3 separate regions of the Homo sapiens genome follow, and regions 2 and 3 are each linked to region 1. The links come from fine-mapping of genetic effects on gene expression. A gene starts in region 1. Each other region holds a variant in brackets. All regions are shown on one strand. Distances are from middle to middle. Region 1 holds the start of FDFT1 (farnesyl-diphosphate farnesyltransferase 1). Region 2 overlaps FDFT1 (farnesyl-diphosphate farnesyltransferase 1). Region 3 overlaps NEIL2 (nei like DNA glycosylase 2).

Region 1 (6,126 bases):
GTAATCCCAGCACTTTGAAGGCTGAGGTGGGAAAATCGCTTGAGCTCAGGAGTTCAAGACCAGCCTGGGCAATGCAGCGAGACATTGTGTCTACAAAAAAATTTAAAAATTAGCCATGCATTGGTGACACGTGCCTGGAGTCCCAGCTACTCGGGATCAGGAAGCCGAGGTGGGAGGATGGCTTCAGCCAAGGAAGTCAAAACTGGAGTGAGTCATGTTCAGGCCACAGCATTCTAGCCTGGACGATGGAGTGAGACCCCCCCCTCAAAAAAAAAAAAAAAAAGGCCGGGTGCAGTGGCTCACGCCTGTAATCCTAGCACTTTGGGAGACCAAGGCGAGCAGATCACTTGAGGTCAAGAGTTCAAAACCAGCCTCACCAACATGGTGAAACCCCGTCTCTACTAAAAATACCAAAAAATCAGCCGGGCGTAGTGGCAGGTGCCTGTAATCCCAGCTACTCAGCAGGCTGAGGCAGGAGAATTGCTTGAACCCAGGAGGCGGAGGCTGCATCTAGCTGAGGTCCCGCCACCACTGCACTCCAGCCTGGGTAACAGAGCAAGACTCCATCTCAAAAAAAAAAAAAAAAAAAAAGAGAAACTAAGATAATGTTAAGTGAAGGGAAATGTATTTTTCCAATTTATTTCCCCTAATTAAAGGTTCAGGTATTTTTTTAACGGCTCATGGGGATGTAAAAACTGCCCAGAAAGACTACAACTAACATAACAAATACTGCACCATATTATCAGAGCTAGAATAGCTCAAGTCTCGCTTTTAAAAAAACTCAAAATGTACAAAAACAGTATACTGTGAAGTCTTTCTCTACCCACTTACCATGACCACCCACTTTCCCTCCCAACAGGAAACCAATGCTACCATTTTCTCTAACAGTCTTTCTGTAGAAAGGAAAGAGACATAGAGGAATGAAGTCTGGACCCAAATGAGGTCTGACTGCACTCAGATCCCTTGCCCTGCTAGTATCTTCCTCTGCAGTGCTTTTCTCCACGTGAAAAACTGTACATTCGCTTTCTTAAATTGTCTCTCTTCCACTAAAAAGTAAGTTTTATAAAATCAAGGTCTTCACCTAGCTTGTTCACTGTTGTACCTCCAGCACCTAGAACACTATCTGATATACAACTGGTCGTCAAATATTTGTTAAATAAATGAATGCTATATCTAAATATAAAAAGTGACATCTGCCATATCAAATAATAGAAGTTATTCTGTAGCAAAATAATTCAAATAATGTAGCACCGGCAAAGAAAAGATGAAGAAAACTGAATGTTCTACAAATAGACTGAAGGATGTACCTGTATTAAAGATAGCACGTGAAAAATAACACCAAATGAGGGTGTAGTCTACTGGGGACAAAAACCAGAAATTTATTTTCTAGTGTGTTTACTGAAGCACATGGACACTGAAAGAAAGACTCCGATGTTCAGGCACCTATCAAGCCTCGGCCTGAGTCACATTTGCTACTGTCCTGTTGGCCCAAAAAAGTTACAGAAATCAGCCAGGCTGGTCCAGACCAGAAGAACTTGGCTGAATTTGTCTATTCATTCAATAATCGCGTACGAATAATTTTCTTGTTGGAATAAAAACACCTCCTATGCATTCATTAAACAAATAGTACAGGCATGAGGCAGATAAAAATCTAAGTAAAACCAAGTTCTGACCTTCCACCAACCACCTAGCTAATCCATAGACGTTAGATAACTCATTGGAACTTGGAAGCGTAGATAGGCGATTTTAAAACTCAGGAAGCACCGAGGATGAAGCGATGGAAGGCAGCAAGGCGGGGAGAGCTCCGGAAGAGGTGGTGAAACTGGAGGAGTCAGACTTCATTCCAGAAACGGCCTTCATGTGATGTTATCTGCATAGTTCATTCCGCTTACCAAAAAACTCACTCGTCCTCTCCCGCGTAACCCACCCACATTGCCTCAGATGTGTAACCCTCGGGTTAAAATACCGGTAAGCGCCGATGCTCACGGAGGGGACGAAACGGGGAGCGCAACCACCGGGAACCACGCAAAAGTCGCTCATGCCCAGGGCGGCTTGCGGGGGCAGGGACAGGTCAGCCAGGACGGCCGCGTCCACCCGGGCCCTACAGGGGGAAGGCTCGAGGAAAGGGGGACGGGAACACCCAGGCGTCGGCCCTGCTCGCCGCGCCCCTTGCCCCAGATCCGGGCCCGGCCGCTCAGGCCCTGAGGCCGGCCCAGCGAGCTCCTTCCCCGCCCCGGGCAAGCAGGGAGGCTCGGCCCACCTGGTCCATCTTGGGCATCACCTTCCGCTTGCCCCCGATCCGGAAGCGCACCAGGTTGTAGAACTCTTCGGGGTGGCCAAGGCATTTCACGAACTCCATCCTGGCGCAGGCGGCGGACTCCCGGGCGCGACTCTCACCTCTGCGGTCCCCAGGCGCTCACCGGCCGGCTGGACCTGTGGAGTAGGTGCTTCGAGGGGCTGGCCGGACAGGGGGCAGGCCTAGTACGGCGACGCCCCGCCCGCCGCTCCGCCCACTTCAACCGGCCTCGGCCGCCAGCGGGGCTAGCTGCGGCCTCGTGGGGTGGGCTGACGGGCGCTGATTGGCCAGGGCCGCTCACACTAGGAAGACCCCGGCCAATCAGTCGCGGAAGGAGACTGGCGTGATAACACTCTAGAAGCTCATTGGAGGCCGAGAAAGAGGCCGACGAGCGGGATTGGTGCCCTGATGGAGCCGGGCCTTTGTTTTCTTCCGCTTACCCCGGCTGGGAGCGCGAACGCTGTGGGGACTGGAGGTGAGGCGGTGGGGCTTAGGATGCGCAGGAGCCCAACGGTGGTCCGCAGTCGGGAGAGCAGTGCGGGGCTGCTTCCTCCCCACTTGGTCAATAAGTCGCCCACGTGTCCGGCCTCGGTGGCTCCTGCCAGCCGGGTGAGCTCTGCAGCCGCTCTCTGTAGAGCCTAAAACCGTGAAAAGGCCGGGCCAGCGCCAAGCTGGGCGTCTTTACTGTAACACACCCGAGCACAGCCCAGCTCGCCTGCCCGCCACCGCCATCCAGCCCCAGGGAGCCCCACACACTCCTGGAGCTTCAGCTGCCCCCTCTCTAGTGTTTACTTGAGATCCAGCTTAGTCCTAGAAAAAGGAGCTGAAGCCTTAGAGAGCCTGTAACAGGAATGTGGAAACTTCTCTCATCCTAGATCTCTCCAGCCCTAGAAACTACTGGCTACCCGTCCAGGCGTGGTGGCTCACGCCTGTAATCGCAACACTTTGGGAGGCCAAGGCGGGTGGATCACGAGGTCAAGAGATCGAGACCATCCTGGCCAACATGGTGAAACCCGTCTCTACTAAAAATACAAAAAAGCCGAGTGTGGTGGTGGGCGCCTGTAGTCCCAACTACTCCGGAGGCTGAGGCAGGAGAATCACTTGAACCCGGGAAGCGGAGTTTGCAGTGAGCCAAGATGACACCGCTGCACTCCAGCCAGGCCAACAGAGCAAGACTACGTCTCCAAAAAAAAAAAAAAACCTACTGGCTACCTAAGCCATCCTGCAGTCTGTTTTAACACAGCAACCAGTAATCCTTTTAAAACCTGTCAGGTCTAGCCGAGCGCGGTGGCTCATGCCTGTAATCCCAGCACTTTGGGAGGCCAAGGCGGGCGGATCACCTGAGGTCTGGAGTTCAAGACCAGCCTGGCCAACATGCTGAAACTGCGTCTCTACTAAAAATACAAAAATTAGCCAGGCATGGTGGCAGGCGCCTATAATCCCAGCTACCTGGGAGGCTGAGGCAGGAGAATCGCTTGAACACAGGAGGCAGAGGTTGCAGTGAGCTGAGATCGCGCTATTGCACTCCAGCCTGGGGGACAAGAGCGAGACTTCATCTCAAAAACAAACAGGAAACCTGTCAGGTACGTTCACTGCCCAAAGCTGTTCAGTGTCTCTCCAACAAAAGCCAAAGCACCTATAGGGATCCTGAGAGGCTGCAGCCTTCCACCCAGATTACCTCTCTGGCCTCCATCTCTTATGCTTTTGCTTTCTCTGGCCCTAGGACTTTTTGTCTAGCTGTTCACTATTCCTGCACTATCCCCCAGATACTGGCTTGACTAACTCCTGTGCCCCTCGAGTCTGCTCACACCTCATCTAGACCCACCTGTTTGCCCTCTCTCACATTTCCACCACTGCTAATCCCAGTGGGGGTCTACTTGCCTATATTTACCATATTCTAATACATCATTTACTTATGTATTAGATTACAGAGTGTTTCCCCTACTACTGTAAACTAAAAATCCTAAGTCCCTACCACTGGACAGCCCTCCCACTCCCCACCTCGGCCAAGGGAACCCCAGAAAAATCTTAAAAACTTAGTTTCCAGCCATGACGGTATAAAAAGTAAAGTAGAGGTTCCTCTTCAAAGACTTTCCTCCCCATTTAATTAGGAATAAATAGTAACTTCTCTTAGAAGCAAACTTTATTCAAAGACCTGTGCTAACATTCTTAAATATCTGCTAGCTATGATAAAGAAATCAATGTACTTCATGTTCTTAGCTCTCACAATTTAGCCTAAATATTTGCCCTGGCATGCTTATAGTGGTCCAAGAAAGCATTAGGTCATAGCCTGTTCCTCTTCCTTATTTGAAGGTGTTTCAACCTTTGTCACCATTCCACAAGTTACTTCCTCCTTCCTTTGTTCTCCTCTACCTTTGCCTCTTTTAAAAACTTCTAAGTTGCTAGCCAATCGGGACAAATACAGAACGTGAGGCACCGTTCCAGCCAATGGAAACTAGACACAAGCAGTGGGGTGGACGAGTCAGGTTATAAATGACCCTGTCTCCTTTGTTTGGTATACTCCCATGGCAAAACTGCTGGCGAGTGTACCCTTTCTGCAGGAAGTAAAAATGGCCTGCTTAGTAAATTAATGTTCAAGCGCCTTTTTTTTTTTTTTTTTTTTTTTTTTTTTTTTGAGACAGAATTTCACTCTTGTTGCCAGGCTGGAGTGCAGTGGCACAGTCTCGGTTCACTGCCACCTCTGCCTTCTGGGTTCAAGTGCTTCTCCTGCCTCAGCCTCCCGAGTAGCTGGGATTACAGGCGCCCAACCACCACGCCTGGGTAATTTTTCGATTTTTAGTAGAGACAGGGTTTCACCATGTTGGCCAGACTGGTCTTGAACTCCTGACCTCATGATCCACCCTCCTCGGCCTCCCAAAGTGCTAGGATTACAGGCAAGCCACTGCGCCCAGCCTTCGAGTGCTATTTCTTCTTCATTTTTTTTTTTTTTTTAAATGGAGTCTCACTCTGTCGTGAGGCTGGAGTGCAGTGGCGCGATCTTGGTTCACTGCAACCTCTGGCTCCCAGGTTCAAGTGAGTCTCCTGCCTTAGCCTCCCGAGTAGCTGGAACTACAGGCATGTACCACCACGGCCAGCTAATTTTTTTATTTTTAGTTGAGACAGGGTTTCACCATGTTGGTTAGGATGGTCTCAATCTCTTGACCTCGTGATCCGCCCGCCTCAGCCTCCCCAGGTACTGGGATTACAGGCGTGAGCCACGGCTCCCAGCCTACAAGTGCTATTTCTTTCCAGCACCAGGGAAAAAGCATTTCAAATAACGGGACAGGAGATCAGATAGCCCTCATTGTACCCCCTTCCTTTTGGAGTTCATACACAACTGGCTGGCATTAACATTAAAACAGAGATCATAAGACTAACGGAACAGACTCTGTGGCAATAAGATACCCAATTATAAACAGGACCTAAGGCCATGCAGGCAATGGTGAAGTCAGGCACCCCTACACTTGAAGAATCAACTAAGCTCTAACTGCCACAGGGCTCTTCTTTTTCTCCAGCAGCTAAACGCTGGCCTTGAGATAAGCAATAGTAAAACACCTGCAGCTCCACCAGACAGTGACTAATTGAACCCCTGTTCCACCAGCCATAACTACAGCTTTGACTGGTCAAGAGATTGATCTCAGTAACTTTCTCCTGATAAGACCGCCGACCGTGGACTGGTCTGGCCAGTTTACAGAAACTGTACACTCAAGGCGCCTTCCTGTCCTAAAAAGACCTTTTGACCTATAGGGTGTAATTGTAATGCATTCACATGTTGAGTCTCTATCCCAAAGTGAATATGGGTCATATATTACATACATGTTTGTTCAATG
Region 2 (8,245 bases), 23 kb before region 1:
AAGTGTATTACACCTCCCTGGATCCTGATAACTTGAAAGTGAAATAAAACCTTTAATTCTAACAGTGGGATTCGGCTTGATGATTTTTAATGATATTATTTAGAGGATTCTCTGAAGCTAGCGAAAGTTCTGGAAACATAGTGTTGATGGTTATATAACATCATTAATGTACTTAATGCCACTGAATAATAGACTTAAAAATAGTTAAAATGGCAAATTCTCTATTATGTACATTTATTATAAATAAAATGTTAAGTATATATACATACAGTTAAAAAGAGATAACAACAAGTGCTGGTGAAACTGGGACTCTCACACTGCTGACGGGAATGTAAAATGGTGGAGCGACCTTGGAAAAGCGTCTGGCAGCTCCTCACAAGGTTCGAGCTGCTGTATGAACCAGCAATTCCACTTCTCAGCATAGACCCAAGAAAAAGGAAAACACACATCTACACAAAAACTTATATGCAAATGTACACAGTACTATTCACCATAGCCAAAAAAAATGGGAAGAACCCAAATATCCTTCAACTGATGAATGGATAAATGTGGTCTATCCACACAGTGGAATAATACTAGGCGATAAAAAGGAATAAAGCAGTGATGCAATGCCCCAGCATGGAGGAGCCCTGAAAACATGCTAGCAAAAGAAGCCAATCACCTAGGACCACATTTGGCATGATTCAACTACTACGAAATGTCCAGAACCTTTACTAAGCACTCTATGCTAGAAGTTCATCTCATTTTATTCACACCACCACCGTGTGGTAGAAATGATGCTATTTTACAGATAAAGTAAGTGAATGAGAAGAGCAGGGCTCTGCTCCTGTGTGTGCAAGATGGTGTGGCTCACGCTCATGCATCACATGCCCGTGGCTGATGTTCTGTCTGGGAGACAATGGAACAGTGGTCAGGGGCTGGCCTAGGAGCCGGGAGACTGAGACTCCACTTCCAAGGCAGCCACTGCCTCACTATACATCCCCAGACAATCCCCTTCCCTTCTCTGAGCCCTGTGTCTGCAAAAGAGGGGTAAGACAAGAGTGGTTTCTCAACCCTGGCTGCACACGAGTCACCTAGGAAACTTAAAAGGCCATGTCTGAGCTGAGGGAAGTGTTTTTTGTTTTTTTGTTGTTGTTTGTTTGTTTTGAGACAAGGGTTTTGCTCTGTCTCCCAGGCTGCTAGAATGCAGTGGTGCGATCATGGTTCACTGCAGCCTTGAACTCCTGGGCTCAGGCAATCCTCCTGCCTCAACCTCCCAAGGAGCGAGAACTATAGGGGTGTGCCACTATACCCAGCTAATTTTTGATTTTTTTTTTTTAAATGGAGTCTCACATCAGCCTCCCAAGTAGCTGGCCCTACCAGCGTATGCCACCACACTTGGCTAATTTTTGTAATTTTAGTAGAGACGGAGTTTTGCCATGTTGGCCAGGCTGTTCTCAAACACCTGACCTCAAGTGATCCACTCACCTGGGCTTCCCAAAGTGCTGGGATTATAGGCAGGAGTCACTGTGCCCGGCCAATTTTTACTGTTTTTTTTGTTTTGTTTTGTTTTGTTTTGTTTTAAGAGATAAGGTCTCACTACGTTGTCCAGGCTGGTCTCGATATCCTGGCTTCAGTGATCTTCCTACCTTGGTCTCCCAGTGTTGAGATTACAGGCGTGAGCCACCTTGCCCAGCCCCCAGAGTAGTTTAAATGTGAATTTTTCTTAGGAGTAAGACTCAGCATCTTTTCAGATTTTTAATAATCATCTGTGTGTCTCTTCCTGTGAACTATCTTGTTCTTATCTCCTTGCCCATTTTTCTGTGGGGCAGTTGGCCTTTTTCTTAACTTTTAGAAGTTTTTTTTAATATTAGGAATATGAACCCTGTATCTGCTCTATGAATTGCAAATATTGTTTCCCTCTGTCACTTTTTTTTTTTCTTGAGACAGTTTCATTCTGCCACCGAGGCTGGAGTGCAGTGGTGTGATTACAACTCAATCCAACCTTGAGCTCCTGCGCTCAAGGGATCCTTGTGCCTTAGCCTCCCGAATACCTAGGAATACAGGTGCATGCCAACATGCCCAGTTAATCTTTTAAATTTAGTTTTATTTTTTCTACTTTCTTTAATTTTTATTTTTGCTCTTTCAGCAGAATCATTTTCTAACAATTTTTTATAGAGATGGTATCTTGCTGTGTTGCTCAGGCTGGTCTTGAACTCCTGGCCTCAGCACTGGGATTATAAGTATGAGACACCACACTTAGCCTCACCCGTCTTTTTAAAACTTTAAAGTACTTGGCTGCAGGAAACACTTTTATGGAAAGCAAAAGGTAAATGCTGGAATAAATTCAGGGAACAGTCATAAAATTTTCTACTTTCCTTCTGAACAAAATCAGTATCAAAAGCTTTCTGTTCCCTGTCCATGTTTTAATTAAAGATCGACCCTGTCCCTTATTACAGACACCTGGAGTTTTTGTCTACCTGCCATCCCTTTCCCCTTCCTGCTGCAGAATTCTTTCTTTGGGGGAAATCCATTCTGTGTGTACTGTGTAGACGTAATCCAGGCGAGGCCAGAGAACTCAGCTGTGTAGCAACAGTAACTGATTCAGGGCTGAGCAGAAGAACCAAGCCCTTCCTCTTCTTTTGAGAGGGAGTCTCACTCTGTCGCCCAGGCTGGAGTGCAGTGGCACAATCTGAGCTCACCGCAATCTCTGCTTCCTGGGTTCAAGCGATTCTCCTGCCTCAGCCTCCCAGGTAGCTGGGATTACAAGCCCTTGCCACCACGCCCGGCTAATTTTTGTATTTTTTAGTAAACACGGGGTTTCACGATGTTGGCCAGGCTGGTCTCGAACTCCTGGCCTCAGGTGATCCGCCCACCTTGGCCTCTCAAACTGTTGGGATTACAGGCATGAGCCACTGCGCCAGGCCGAACAAAGCCATTCCTAAGAACTTTTTGTTAAGCTAGTGCACATGGGTTGTTACCATATCCACCACTTGGAGAAAGACCGTCTGAAAGAAATCAAGGACAGCAAGGCTTGAATATACTGATTACGTGGTGTGAATCCTGGGAGTCAGCCAGTCTACCTGAAGCAAACTCATGTCAAGCTATCCTATTTTCCACATCCCCTTATGCTGCCTGGGGGAGGCCTGACTTGTTTTTCTGTCACCCGCAACCACAAGAGTTAAAGGATTTTTCAGAGAATGTCTAAAGTTATTTTCCCCCAAAATACCCTGAATCTGTTACCTCTTGAGGCCAGAACTCTCTTCCTCCTTGCTGGTCTTCCAGATAGTCACGGATGATGTTTGTTTTCTGCAAAAACAGGCCCATAGAGTTGGCACGTTCTGTATCTTCACCAACTAAGGGGTCTTCAAACTCTGAGGCTGAGAAAAGACGGGAAAGGCCAATTCCGACCAGCCCAGCAACATAGTGGCAGTACTGTAAGAGACGATTTTTAAAGCACTTTAATAATGGAATTTTTACTGAAATGGACACACTAGAGATCATTAGCTACAAAAAAGCAGGTTCAAAAGAGAATGGGTAAGAATGCATTTTGATTTTAAAATACAAATATACATACCAGGATTTAAAAAACATTCAAGAAGGATGTGCTCAAAACATTTCATAGCAGTCTCTGGCTGACGGGAATTTGATGTTTTTATTTTTCACTTGTATTTTCCAAATTTCTACAATACACATGTACTGCTACTATAATAAAAGGCTACTGAAAAAAACTAGTAAACATTTTTTTATTTTTATTTTTTATTTTTTTTTTGAGATGGAGTCTCATATATTTGCCCACGTTAGACTCAAACTACTGGACCCAAGCAATCTTTCTGCCTCAGCTTCCCGAACAGCTGGGATTGTAGGCAAATACCACCGTGTCTAGCTTTACAATAACTTTTTTTTTTTTTTTTTTTTTGAGATCAAGTCTCACTTTGTCCCCTGGGCTGGAGTGCACTGGCACAATCTCAACTCACTGCAACCTCTGCCTCTTGGGTTCAAGTGATTCTCCTGCCTCAGCTTCCTGAGTAGCTGGAATTAAAGCACCCACCACCACATCCAGCTAATTTTTTATTTTTAGTAGAGACGGGGTTTCACCATGTTGGCCACGCTGGTCTCGAACTCCTGACCTCAACTGATCTGCCAGCCTTGGCCTCCCAAAGTGCTGGGATTACCAGCCCAAGACACCGTGCCCGCCCTAGCTTTACAATAAACTTTTTGATACATAAAACTATGAGAGAAGGCAACGATGAAAGATGGAATATTCTGGTAACAGGAACTAGGACAATACCAACTATGGTTTAATCTTTTTTTGACCAATCTGATAACATGTCAAGATCCGCAGGCCCTCAAAATCATCATTATATGAAAGAACAAATAACTATTTTATGTTCTTGACACGGTTTTAAGAACTCTGCACATTCAGCCGGGCACGATGGCTCATGCCTGTAATCCCAGCACTTTGGGAAGCTGAGACGGGCGGATCACGAGATCAGGAGATCAAGACCATCCTGGCTAAGACGGTGAAACCCCGTCTCTACTAAAAATACAAAAAAATTAGCTGGCCTGGTGGCGGGTGCCTGTAGTCCCAGCTACTCAGAAGGCTAAGGCAGGAGAATGGCGTGAACCCAGGAGGTGGAGCTTGCAGGGAGCCGAGATCGCGCCACTGCACTCCAGCCTGGGCGACAGAGTGAGACTCCGTCTCAAAACAACAACAACAGAAAAAAAGAACTCTGCACATTCAATCCTCACAAACATTGTATCAGGTACATAGCAGTATGATCTCCATTTCAGATGAGGAAACTGAGGCACAAAGAAGTCGATTTAACTTGCCCAACATTGCCCATGTGAGAAAAAAAAAAAATTAGCCAGGCACAGTGACACAGGCCAGTGGTCCCAGTTACTCAGGGGGCTGAAGTAGGAGGCTCGCTTGAACCCAGGAAGGTTCAAGGGGCTGCCGTGTCTGTGGCAGGGGCTAAGAGTTCAAAACTAGGTAGTATGACTTAAGTGTCAGGCTTTAACAACTTTGCTAAAACTTCCCCTTTTCTTTTTAGTT[T/C]TTCTTTTAGAGACAACGTAACTTCCCCTCTCTCAACAGAGATTTCAGTAAATGCAACTCTTAATTGCCAAATACTTTTTTTTTCCGCGACAGCAATTTGTCAAAAGCTGTCCTCCTCTGAAAAGGGTATCCTAAGACAACTTAATGCAATATCCACATACAATAATTGTCTATTAGTTAACTTAAGAAGCAAAAGTAAAGAAGGTAAGCTCTGGAGTGTCATTAGGAAGGGTAAAAGTTAGGAAATGACCGAAGTTCACGCCTGTAATCCCGGAATTTTGGGAGGCTGTGGAGAGGGGACTGCTTGAGCCCAAGAGTTTTAGACCAGCCTGGCCAACAAAGCAAGACCTCATCTCTGTAAAAAATTTTAAAAGGCTGAGTGTAGTGGCTCACACCTGGGAGGCTAAGGCAGGTGAATCGCTTGAGCCCAGGAGCTCAAGACCAGCCTAGGCAACACGATGAAACCCTGTCTCTACCAAAAAATTACAAAAATTAGCCTGGTGTAGTGGTGTGGACCTATAGTCCCAGCTAATGGGGAGGCTGAGGTGAGAGGACTGCTTGAGCACAGGAGGTGAAGGCTGCAGTGAGCCTTGATCATGCCACTACACTCCAGCCTGGGTGACAGAGCAATACCCTGTCTCAAAAATAATAAAAATTAAAATAAATTAGCCAGGCATGGTGGCAACGTGCCTGTGGTCCCAGTTACTCAGGAGGCTGAGGGCAAGGAAGATTGCTTGAGCCCAGAAGGTCAAGGCTGCCTTGTCTGTGCCACTGCATTCCAGTCTGGGTGACAGAGTGAGACCCTGTCTCAAAAAAAAAAAGTCGTCTCTGACTGAAAGTAATACAAAGCCAGAGACTAATCAGGGGGAAGAATGCACAGGTGAAGAGAAAGCACTTGAAATTTGTTCTGGGACAAAAGTAACATGAAAAGAGTGAAATCTTGCTGAAATTAGGTAGACAGAAATTGGCTTTGGACAGCTATACAAAATCTTCAAAAGAATTACTAGAAATTTAAAAAAAAATTAGTATATCTATAGTACTATCCAAAAATATATTTGAAGATAATAGTTCTTTTGGTAGAAATACTCCTAAAATGGAGACTTATATAATTCATCTTCCCCCAAAGTAGAAGAAAAAAAATAACTCCTTGAAATAATTGGCTGGTCATGCCTGTAATCCCAACATTTGAGAGGCCAGAGTGGGAGGACTGTTTGATGCCAGGAGTTTGAGACTAGCCTGGGCAACATGGCAAAACCCTCTCTCTACAAAAAATGTACAAAAATGAGCCTGGTATGGTGTCATGCACTGTAGTTACAGCTACTCGGTAGGCTGAGGTGGGAGGATCACCTGAGCCCAGGAGGTTGAGGCTGCGGGGAGCCGTGATCACACCACTACACACCAGCCTGGATAACAGCAAGACCCTGTCTCAAAAAAAATTTTTTTTAATTCAATTTTATCTGATCAAAACTTCTATTCAACAACCTAAAATTAAGTTTCCTGAATAAATCTGCACAACAGAAAATGAGTTACTATCATAACCAGTGCTGGTTCTTGGCCAGAAGTTTTAACTTCAACTTTATTTTCTTTCAGATGGTGTCTTGCTCTGTCACCCACGTTGGAGTGCAGTGGCACAATCATGGCTCACTGCAACCTTCAACTCTTGGGCTCAAGCAATCCTCCCACACCTCAGCCTCCAGAGTAGCTGGGACCACAGGCACATGCCACCAATTCCCTGCTCATTTTTTAATTTTTTGAAAGACGGGGTCTCGCTATGTTGCTTAGGCTTGTGTCTAACTCCTGGGCTCAAATGATCCTCCCACCTCAGCCTCCCAAAGTGCTGAGATTACAGGTAAACCATAGTACCCGGCTAACTTCACCTTAAATGCAGAAATTGATTTCTAGCAGTCATTGTATGCTGTTAACTTAGGAAGCACAAATCAGCAGTTCCAAAGATAACTGCTGTCAAGTTTTGAGGTTTGAAAAATTAAGAGGCCCAAGACCTTGGACCTACACTAACGTAGTGACCATGTAGCAGCATCTTTTCGGAGATCCTAATTTAAGCACAGTTAAAGGTATGAAATACATCAACACTTTAGATGTCTGAAATGTCTCTGCCTGCTAAATCTGACTGGCTTTAAAATAAATAAATAAAATGTCTTTACTTCCACAGAAGTGATGAGTAAGTCTCACAAACACCATTCCTATGAAAAATAGGCAAGACTCCTAACCCTACCTTATGTTTTGATGTGTAGTTTTAATCTTCATGGTCAATTACATCCCTTTGTCTAGATAAGCACTTCTCTCCAGTACCCTACTCCTAGCCTGGCTGATATCCTACATAGCTGCTGGTTTGGAATTAACTCTGGAATAAACTGTTTATGATGAGACATTCAACCTAAACAGATGAATTGTAAAACCAGAGGGGCTGAAAATACTGGACAACTTTTCTTGTTCTGAGCTTCACTATGAGGACTGCCAGCTCTGTCTAATACATCACACACAGACACTGTTTTATGAGACTAACCTTGTCCCACTCCTGTTCAGAGGTCACATGCTTATCCAAAAACTCTGCCATCCCAATGCCCATTCTCCGGCAAATGTCGGCAATCACTGTTTGGTATTTCTCAGCCAGATTTCTAAACTCAAGGGAGATCTGAAATGGAAACCGTAAAAACACAGAAATCATGAAATATGTACAGACATGGCACCAAAGATCACAAGGCAAACAATGGCGGAATTAATCATGACTGCAATGGTTCATCTATAAGCCTAATTTAGGTCACACATTTTTTTTGTTTTTGTTTTTGTTTTTGAGATGGAGTCTCGCAATGTTGCCCAGGCTGGAGTGCAATGGCACGATCTCAGCTCACTGCAAACTCCGCCTCCCAGGTTCAAATGATTCTCCTGCCTCAGCCTCTCCAGGAGCTGGCATTACAGGCATGCACCACCACGCCCAGCTAATTTTTATATTTTTAGTAGAAGTGGGGTTTCACCATGTTGGCCAAGCTGGTCTCAAATTCCTGACCTCATGATCCACTAGCCCTGGCCTCCCAAACTGCTGGGATTACAGGCATAAGCCACTGAGCCCGGCCTCATGTTTCTTATTATTTCATAAATTTCATAAATATTAAAATAGAATGGTCTAAAAATGCTAATGTTTCTAGATTCAAAAGAAGATTCAAAGTCTCACTACACATTTCATCTTTCCAA
Region 3 (7,858 bases), 26 kb after region 1:
AGACAGCAGGGCCCTGGGGGGCAGACTGGACGTCCTCAGTATGTCCCCACTGCTGAAGTCCCAAACCCCACCAAGCAGGGCCCTATGACTATCAGAGCCCACGAAAATCAGATGGCCACACCATTACCTCGGGGAAGGGTCCCTCCAGTCCCCCCTCTTGTTGGCTTTCTTGGCTCTGGAGAAATCGTTCACCCAAACGCTGCCAAACAAACCAAAGCTGACACGCAGCCACCTCCCAGCATCTCCTGCAGGGGCGTCTCTCTCCAAATACTCAGAATCATCCTCGCCCTGGGGGACGAGCTCTGCAGACCGTGAGGATCCATCAAGGGTCTTCTGCCCGCTGGGCTCCCCGACCTGCTTTGGGTCCGCAGCCCCTTCCTTCTGCACTTCTTTTTGTGGAGGCTCTGGTGTTGGGCTGCTGCCAGGGGGCCCCATTTCTTCATCTAGATCAAATCTAAGGAATAATTTCTTTCCATGGACCTAGAAAAAATGAACAGAGATCCAAGCCTTACAGACCCAGAGAGGGGAACTGGGGAATGCGGATATTTATCCTATTGCAAAGGTCTTCCTTCTCACCCCTCCTGGGGGGCCTTCCCAAATGAAGTCTTTGGACTCTGCCTTTTGCTCTTTTGCTCCAGTGGTGTGAGCAGTTCGCATGTGGTTTTCAAAGTGACTGGGAGCAAGGAGACTTAGTTGGCAGTGAAACACACCCATGCAAGATGGCAAGGCCACCCTGGAATACCTGAAGGGAATCGCTCCCAATTTTTTCATGCAGTAGCTAAGAAATGAACATAAGTTGTCATTCCTTCATTCCATTCGTAATACATTTTCTATGCCAGAAATAAGCGGTGCGTGGGAATGCACACATACAGAGCAGCTAAAGACAACACCCTGTGAAACTGGGTACCCCTCGCTACCCCCTCCACCAGCATATTGGACTTGATAAGGAAACTGTAATCAATAAAAATTAGATACTGAAACAAAAATTGATCAGTGAATCAGATCACCACTCTAAAAAGTATAAGGCAAAGGACCCACCTCATCTCACTGAAAATGATTTCAGTAGAAGAAAATAAATATAGAAAATGTGTGTTAAAGGATGTTCTGCTGTCTTTTTTTTTTTTTTTTTTTTTTCAGATGGAGTCTCGCCTAGACTGGAGTGTAGTGGCACCATCTTGGCTCACTGCAGCCTCCATCTCCTGGGTTCAAGTGATTCTCTTGCCTCAGCTTCCCAAGTAGCTGGGACTGTAGGTGCACACCACCACCCCCAGCTAATTTTTGTATATTTAGCAGAGACCACGTCTCACCACGTTAGCAAGGCTGGTCTCGAACTCCTGACCTCAAGCGATCTGCCCGTCTTGGCCTCCCAAAGTGTTGGGATTCCAGGCATGAGCCACCATGCCTGGGCCCTTGCTTTGACTTTATTTTCATATTGCACCTCCTGATATGCAATATGTAGGCCTAGATTCCAGGATGAGTCAGTTCTACACAGCCTGAAATTCAGGCAGTCTTTCAAGGAGTATAAACCAAAATATCTGGCATTAATACTGGAAATGCCTGTGTTACTTTCTTGACCACTACAGGTCCGTGCTTAAAGATCACTGTTCTGGTATGATCTTTAACTTGTTAATTAGTACACAAATTAATCTTGAAGTCCTCCACCCAAAAGAGCATTACCTTTCGAAATAATCCCAGAATAGCTTATCTGTAAATCTGAGCACAGATTGTTATCTGCCACATATTAGAAATGGTTTAACTGACCTACATAAAAAAAAAAAAAAAAAAAACTGAGCAAGGATTTAAGTGGGCATAATAGAATTTGCTGCAGAAAATATTTCTTGGTATAAACTCACCAATGTTGATATAATTCTGATGAAAATAACTGTCAAATGCCCATCATGAACAAAACATTTACTAGGTCAAAAATGTCTAGGTCAGGATGTCCTCATACCAACTATGGCAATTTCTGCTGTCCCTCTTTTGGGTTCCTGTGACACTGCAGCCACTTCAATTCACTAATCATTAATTAAGCTTATTCAATGTGCCTGGCAGTGTGCTAGGCTCCAAGGGCAAACAGATGAATAAGGCTCTGCAATGCTTTCAATGTGTTCCTCAAAAAGTATGTGTTGGAAACTTAATCCCCAATGGAACAGTGGTAAGAGATGGCAACTTTGAGATTAGGCCATAGAGCTCTGGCCTCCTGAATGGAATAATGCCAATTGCAAATGACACGGCAAGATGCCAATGCCATGCCCTTGGACTTTCCAGGCTCCAGAACTGTGAGCTAAATAGACTTACATTGCTTATAAATTATGCAGTCTCAAATATTCTGTAATAGCAGCAAAATTAGATTACAACAATCTCCAATCTTCCCTTATCTATAACATGGGTGAACTTTGAGGACTTTATACTAAGTGAAATAAGCCAGTCAAAAAAACTCCAAATACTGTATAATTCCACTGATATGAGGTATCTGGGGAAGTAAAATTCATCGAGACAGAAAGTAGAAAGGTGATTGCCAGGGGCTGCAGGGAGGGAGGAAAGGGGGAGTTAGCGTTCAACAGGTATGGAGTCTCAGCTTGGGGAGATAAAAAAGTTCAGGGAAACTGTTAGACAACGTGAATACACTTAACATGACTGAACTATATACTTTAAAATGGTTAAGACAGTAAAGTTTGTTATGTGTTTTTCATCACAATTTTAAAAATTTTTAAAAGGCGGTGGGGGTGGGAGGGGGACAACTGTGAAAACAGATACTACAAGAGCACAGAGAAAAGTGTGGCTAGGCCAGGCACAGTGGCTCATGCCTGTAATCCCTGCACTTTGGGAGGCTGAGACGAGAGGATTGCTTGAGCCCAGGAGATCGAGACCAGCCTGGGTAACAAAGTGAAACGCCCATCTGTACAAAAAAAAAAGAAAAGAAAAGTGTGGGTAGAAGCAGACGTAGCACACGGAAGAAGAGTCTACATGATGAGGGGAAGCTGGCCGTTACCTGGGCTGGGCTTCACAAGAAGAGTGGAGGGCAGAGGAGACAGGGTGTGCCCAGCTGAGGGGACATACCTGAAGGCAGAGGTGGAAACCCTACACTGGAACAGGGGCTCCTGGTCAGACACAGCAGCCAGGGCGTGCGCTGTTAGCACTACTCCCAACAAACCCGCTATAGGAACCAAAGAGCTCTCAACTCTCAGGACCAAGAGGAGGAGCAGACAGGAGATACAAAGTCCCCCCAGAAGATGAGGAACAGGCACAGGAAGGGTAACTGATGAGGGAGAGCAGAGACCCCTGCTGCAGCAGAGGGGAGCCCCAAGGAAGAGAGAACCCAGGGGACCTACCCATCGTGACCCCAGGTGACCTGGAGATGGGGAGGCCCCAGGTGCTGTGGCAAGAGGTTAAAAATGGAAGGATTGGTCCTCATACACTGCTGGTGGGATGATAAAATGGTGCAGCTGCCTTGGAAAACACTACAGAAGACACTAAAAAAGTTCAACATACTATATGGTCCAGCAATTCCACTCCTAGGAATACTCTCAAGAGAAATGGAAACATACGTCTACACCAATACTTGCATATGAATGCCCACAGCAGCATTATCCATAGAAGTCAAAGAGTTGAAACAATCCGAGTGTCCAACAACTGATGACTGGACATCACTGACCATAAAATGTGTGATATGGTTTGGCTGTGTCTCCACCCAAATCTCATCTTGAATTTTAGCTCCCATAATTCCCACGTGTTGTGGGGGGGACCCGGTGGGAGATAACTGAATCATGGGGATGGGTTTTTTCCCATGCTGTTCCCACAACAGTAAGTCTCACAAGATCTGATGGTTTTATAAAGGGCAGTTCCCCTGCACATGCTCTTTCTTGCCTGCTGCCATGTAAGACATGCCTTTGCTTCTCCTTTGCCTTCCACCATGATTATGAGGACTCCCCAGACATGTGGAATTGTGAGTCCACTAAACCTCTTCCCTTTATAAATTACCAAGTCTTGGTTATGTCTTTATCAGCAGCATGAGAACAGACTAATACTGTAAACTGGTATTGGGAGGGGGGCATTGCTGTAAAGACATCTAAAAATGCGGAAGCAACTTTGGAACTGGGTAACAGGCAGAGGTTGAAACAGTCTGGAGGGCTCAGAAGAAGACAGGAAAATGTGGGAAAGTTTGGAACTTCCTAGATACTTGTTGAATGGCTTTGATCAAAATGCTGATAGTGATATGGACAATAAGGTACAGGCTGAAGTGGTCTCAGATGGAGATGAGGAACTTGCTGGGAACTAGAGTAAAGGTGATTCTTGCTGTGCTAAGAGACTGGTGGCATTTTGCCCCTGCCCTAGAGATCTATGGAAATTTGAACTTGAGAGACATGATTATGGCATCTGGTGAAAGAAATTTCTAAGTGGCAAAGCATTCAAGAGGAAGCAGAGCACAGAAGTTTGAAAAATTTGCAGCCTGATGATGCAGTAGAAAAGAAAAACCCATTTTCTGGGGAGAAATTCAAGCTGGCTGCAGAAATTTGCATAAGTAACTAGGAGTCAAATGCTAACCACCAAGCCAATAAGGAAAATGTCTCCAGAGCATGTCAGAGACCTTCACAGCAGCCCCTCCCATCACAGGTCCAGACACCTAGAAGGAAAAAATGGTTTCCTGGGCCAGATCCAGGGCCCCCTCTGCTGTGTGCAGCCTAGGGACTTGGTGCCCTGTGTCCTAGCCCCTCCAGCCATGGCTAAAAAGCGCCAATGTACAACCCAGGCTGCT[GCTT/T]CAGAGGGTACAAGCCCCAAGCCTTGGCGGTTCACATGTGGTGTTGAGCCTGCAGGTGCACAGAAGTTAAGAATGGAGGTTTGGAAACCTCCACCTAGATTTCTGAGGATGTATAGAAACAACGGGATGTCCAGGCAGAGGTGTGCTGCAGGGGCAGAGCCCTCATTGAGAACCTCTGCTAGGGCAGTGCAGAAGGAAAAGACGGGGTTAGAGCCCCAAGGCAGAGTTCCCACTGGGGCACTGCCTAGTAGAGCTGTGAGAAGAGGGCCACTGTCCTCCAGACCCCAGAATGGTAGATCTACTGACAGCTTGCACCCTGCCCTGGAAAACACACAGACACTCAATGCCAGCCTGTGAAAGCAGCCAGGATGACGGACTGTACCCTACCAAAGCCACAGAGGCAGAGCTGCCCAAGGCCGTGGGAGTCTACCTCTTGCATCAGCGTGCCCTGGATGAGAGACATGGAGTCAAAGATCATTTTGGAGCTTTAAGATTTGACTGCCTCACTGGATTTCAGACTTGCATGGGGCCTGTAGCCCCTTCGTTTTGGCCAATTTCTCCCATTTGAAACAGGTGTATTTACCCAATGCCTGTACCCCCATTGTATCTAGGAAGTAACTAACTTGCTTTTGATTTTACAGGCTCATAGGTGGAAGCAACCTGCCTTGTCTCAGATGAGACTTTGGACTGTGGCCTATTAAATTAATGCTGAAATGAATTAAGACTTTTGGGGACTGTTGGGAAGGCATGATTGGTTTTGAAATGTGAGGACTTGTGCTTTGGAAGGGCCTGGGGGTGGAATAATATAACTCCCATGATTCCCATGTGTTATGGGACGGACCTGGTGGGAGGTACCCAGTGGGAGGTAATTGAATCATGGGGGCTGTTCTCGTGATAGTAAATAAGTCTCAAGAGATCTGATGGGTTTTTTGTTGTTGTTGTTTTTCAGATGGAGTCTCACTCTGTTGCTGAGGCTGGAGCGCAGGTGCGATCTCAGCTCACTGCAACCTCTGTCTCCTGGGTTCAAGCAATTCTCCTGCCTCAGCCTCCCAAGTAGCTGGGATTACAGGCGCCCACCACCATGCCCAGCTAATTTGTGCATCTTTAGTAGAGATGGGGTTTAACATGTTGGCCAGGCTGGTCTCAAACTCCTGACCTCAGGCGACCTGCCCACCTCTGCCTCCCAAAGTGCTGGGATTACAGGCATGAGCCACTGCACCTGGCCTGACGGTTTTATAAATGGTAATTCCCCTGCACAAGCTCTCTTGCCTTCCACCATGTAGGATGTGCCTTTGTTTCCCCTTCGCCTACTGCCATAATTGCGAGGCCTCCCCAGCCATGCAGAACTGTGAGTCCATTAAACCTCTTTCCTTCATAAATTACCCAGTCTTGGAAGGGGAGAGTAGAAGGAGCTTGGTTTCCAATGTTGCTCCTATACCACCCTGGACTGTTCCATTACTGGAGGAGGAGAAAACCATGAGCTAGAGTAGCCATTTTTCTGAGTCTGTTATGAGTAATCCAACACAACTCCTATATAGAAAATGGAGAGCTGACAAGAAAAGGATGTGCCAGACAAACAGATGGCACAGAGTGCAGCCAAGCTCCCTCCTGCCTCATCAACTCACCCTGCTCACTCCACCTCCATCGGCCCGCCTGTAACTGCTTCTCAAGCCTGAAATGCCCTTTCCTCCCTCTTCAGTCCACTGAAATCCTCCAGCCTTCAAGGCCCAACTCAAGTCCTACCTCCTGCACATCTTCTCCAGGCCACCGGGACCTCTTCCTGTCAGGGTCATTACCTGGGCCTTTATGATGTGCTCTGCCCTCCCCATTTAGCATAGCTTAATAGTGTGGCCTGTGTCGATACAAGCCGTATGTTCTCAATTCAGTTCTAAGTTCCTAGGGTCAGGGACCCGCCGACAGGGAGAAGCAGGGAAGGGCGCTCACTTCAAAGCACTGCCAGGCAGCCCCGAAGGTTCCCTGCAACCTTAGGTTCCCTGCAACATGGTTTTCTGCTTGGTTTACTGGGAAAGCAGCTCCCAGTCCCGTCTACGGGTTCCTTCACCGCACATCCATCTGCCCACCCATCCACTTGGGAAATATTCTCTTACAGCCAGCTCTGTGGCAGACACCCTGGTAAGTGCTGGGGATCCAGAGACAAGAGACAATTCTGCCCCTGCAAACCTCGAAGGACAGTGTGTACAAAGAGGCCACAGTCCTGGAGGCCATGGGACCCCGTGCTCTCACCTGTTCCTTGCCAGCCACCTGAGCTTGGGCTAAGTACTCCCTTCTCCGAGCCTCAGTCTCCAAAGGAATCAACTATGGGTACAGGGCTACAGGATCTCTTCCAGTTCTAACTAACAACGGTTTTAAAACCTCTGTGTGTGTGTGTTGCGGGGGTGGGGGGTGAGGGCAAGATGGAAGAAAGGGAACTAGTACTTATGGAGTACCCGTTATGTGCCAGGCATAAACTCTACTTAAAACAACAACTTTAAGAGGTCAATGGCTTATCTCCATTCTACAATAGAAGAAAGAGCTATGAGATGAACATGCTTAAGAGCACACGGCTAAGCAGCAGCAGAGCGCGTGAGCTCATCCACAGGCACCACCCGTGCTTCCTACGTGCCGGCACTCAGCTAAGTGCTGGGGGCACAATACTGGCGAGGAGCAGCCCCTGCCCTCTGCATCTGTCCTCTCCCCTCAACAAGCAGAACAACTCAGTAAAAAGGGAAGAACAGGAGGAAGTACATGATGTCCTGGAAGCACAGAGATGGAGTCTCCTTCCCACCTAAAGCAGACAGGGCAGGCTTCTCTGAGGATGCAATGGCCAAGTGGAAGCTGGAAGACCAGGAATTACCATTATAAATTGAGGGAACAGGGGCAGAGTTGGGAGAAAAAGGAAGAAGTGCTTGAGCAGGGGGCAGCAAGTGAAAACCACGGACAGAAACACTAAGAAGAGCCAAAGGCAGTTTCATCGATCAGAAGACAGGTTTGGGGCAGGATAAGAAGGCTAGAGAGGGAGGCAGTGGTGAGAAAACAGGGAGCTCCGTGAGCCCCTGGAAGGATGAGCTGGTTTGAACCTAGATCTGAAGGTTCTGCTCT

Evidence for each region. PIP is the estimated chance that this variant, and not a neighbour inherited with it, causes the effect. A credible set is the group of variants that fine-mapping cannot tell apart.
Region 2: its variant is the best candidate, but not a certain one, in a credible set for the expression of FDFT1 in whole blood (TOPMed, PIP 0.75).
Region 3: its variant is the best candidate, but not a certain one, in a credible set for the expression of FDFT1 in atrial appendage (GTEx, PIP 0.57).

What each region holds. Positions count from the first base shown.
Region 1 is chr8:11,799,066-11,805,191 of GRCh38, reverse strand. It overlaps FDFT1 (farnesyl-diphosphate farnesyltransferase 1), which reads right to left and starts at 2,451. Exons shown (of 8, transcript NM_004462.5): 1 at 2,261-2,451. The coding sequence starts at 2,359. It overlaps LOC105379243 (a long non-coding RNA gene), which reads left to right and starts at 3,837. Exons shown (of 3, transcript XR_948962.4): 1 at 3,837-3,879. RefSeq lists silencers at 2,073-2,192, 2,403-2,652, 4,830-4,889 and enhancers at 2,723-2,882, 2,920-3,661, 3,662-4,404, 4,534-5,177.
Region 2 is chr8:11,821,193-11,829,437 of GRCh38, reverse strand. It overlaps FDFT1 (farnesyl-diphosphate farnesyltransferase 1), which reads right to left. Exons shown (of 8, transcript NM_004462.5): 4 at 7,560-7,688; 5 at 3,223-3,414. Among named protein-coding and RNA genes, the nearest start is that of FDFT1, 23 kb to the right of the region's middle. The variant T/C (reference allele first, on the strand shown) is at 5,036.
Region 3 is chr8:11,772,220-11,780,077 of GRCh38, reverse strand. NEIL2 (nei like DNA glycosylase 2) reads right to left here. Exons shown (of 5, transcript NM_145043.4): 3 at 128-480. Among named protein-coding and RNA genes, the nearest start is that of NEIL2, 6.4 kb to the right of the region's middle. The variant GCTT/T (reference allele first, on the strand shown) is at 4,757.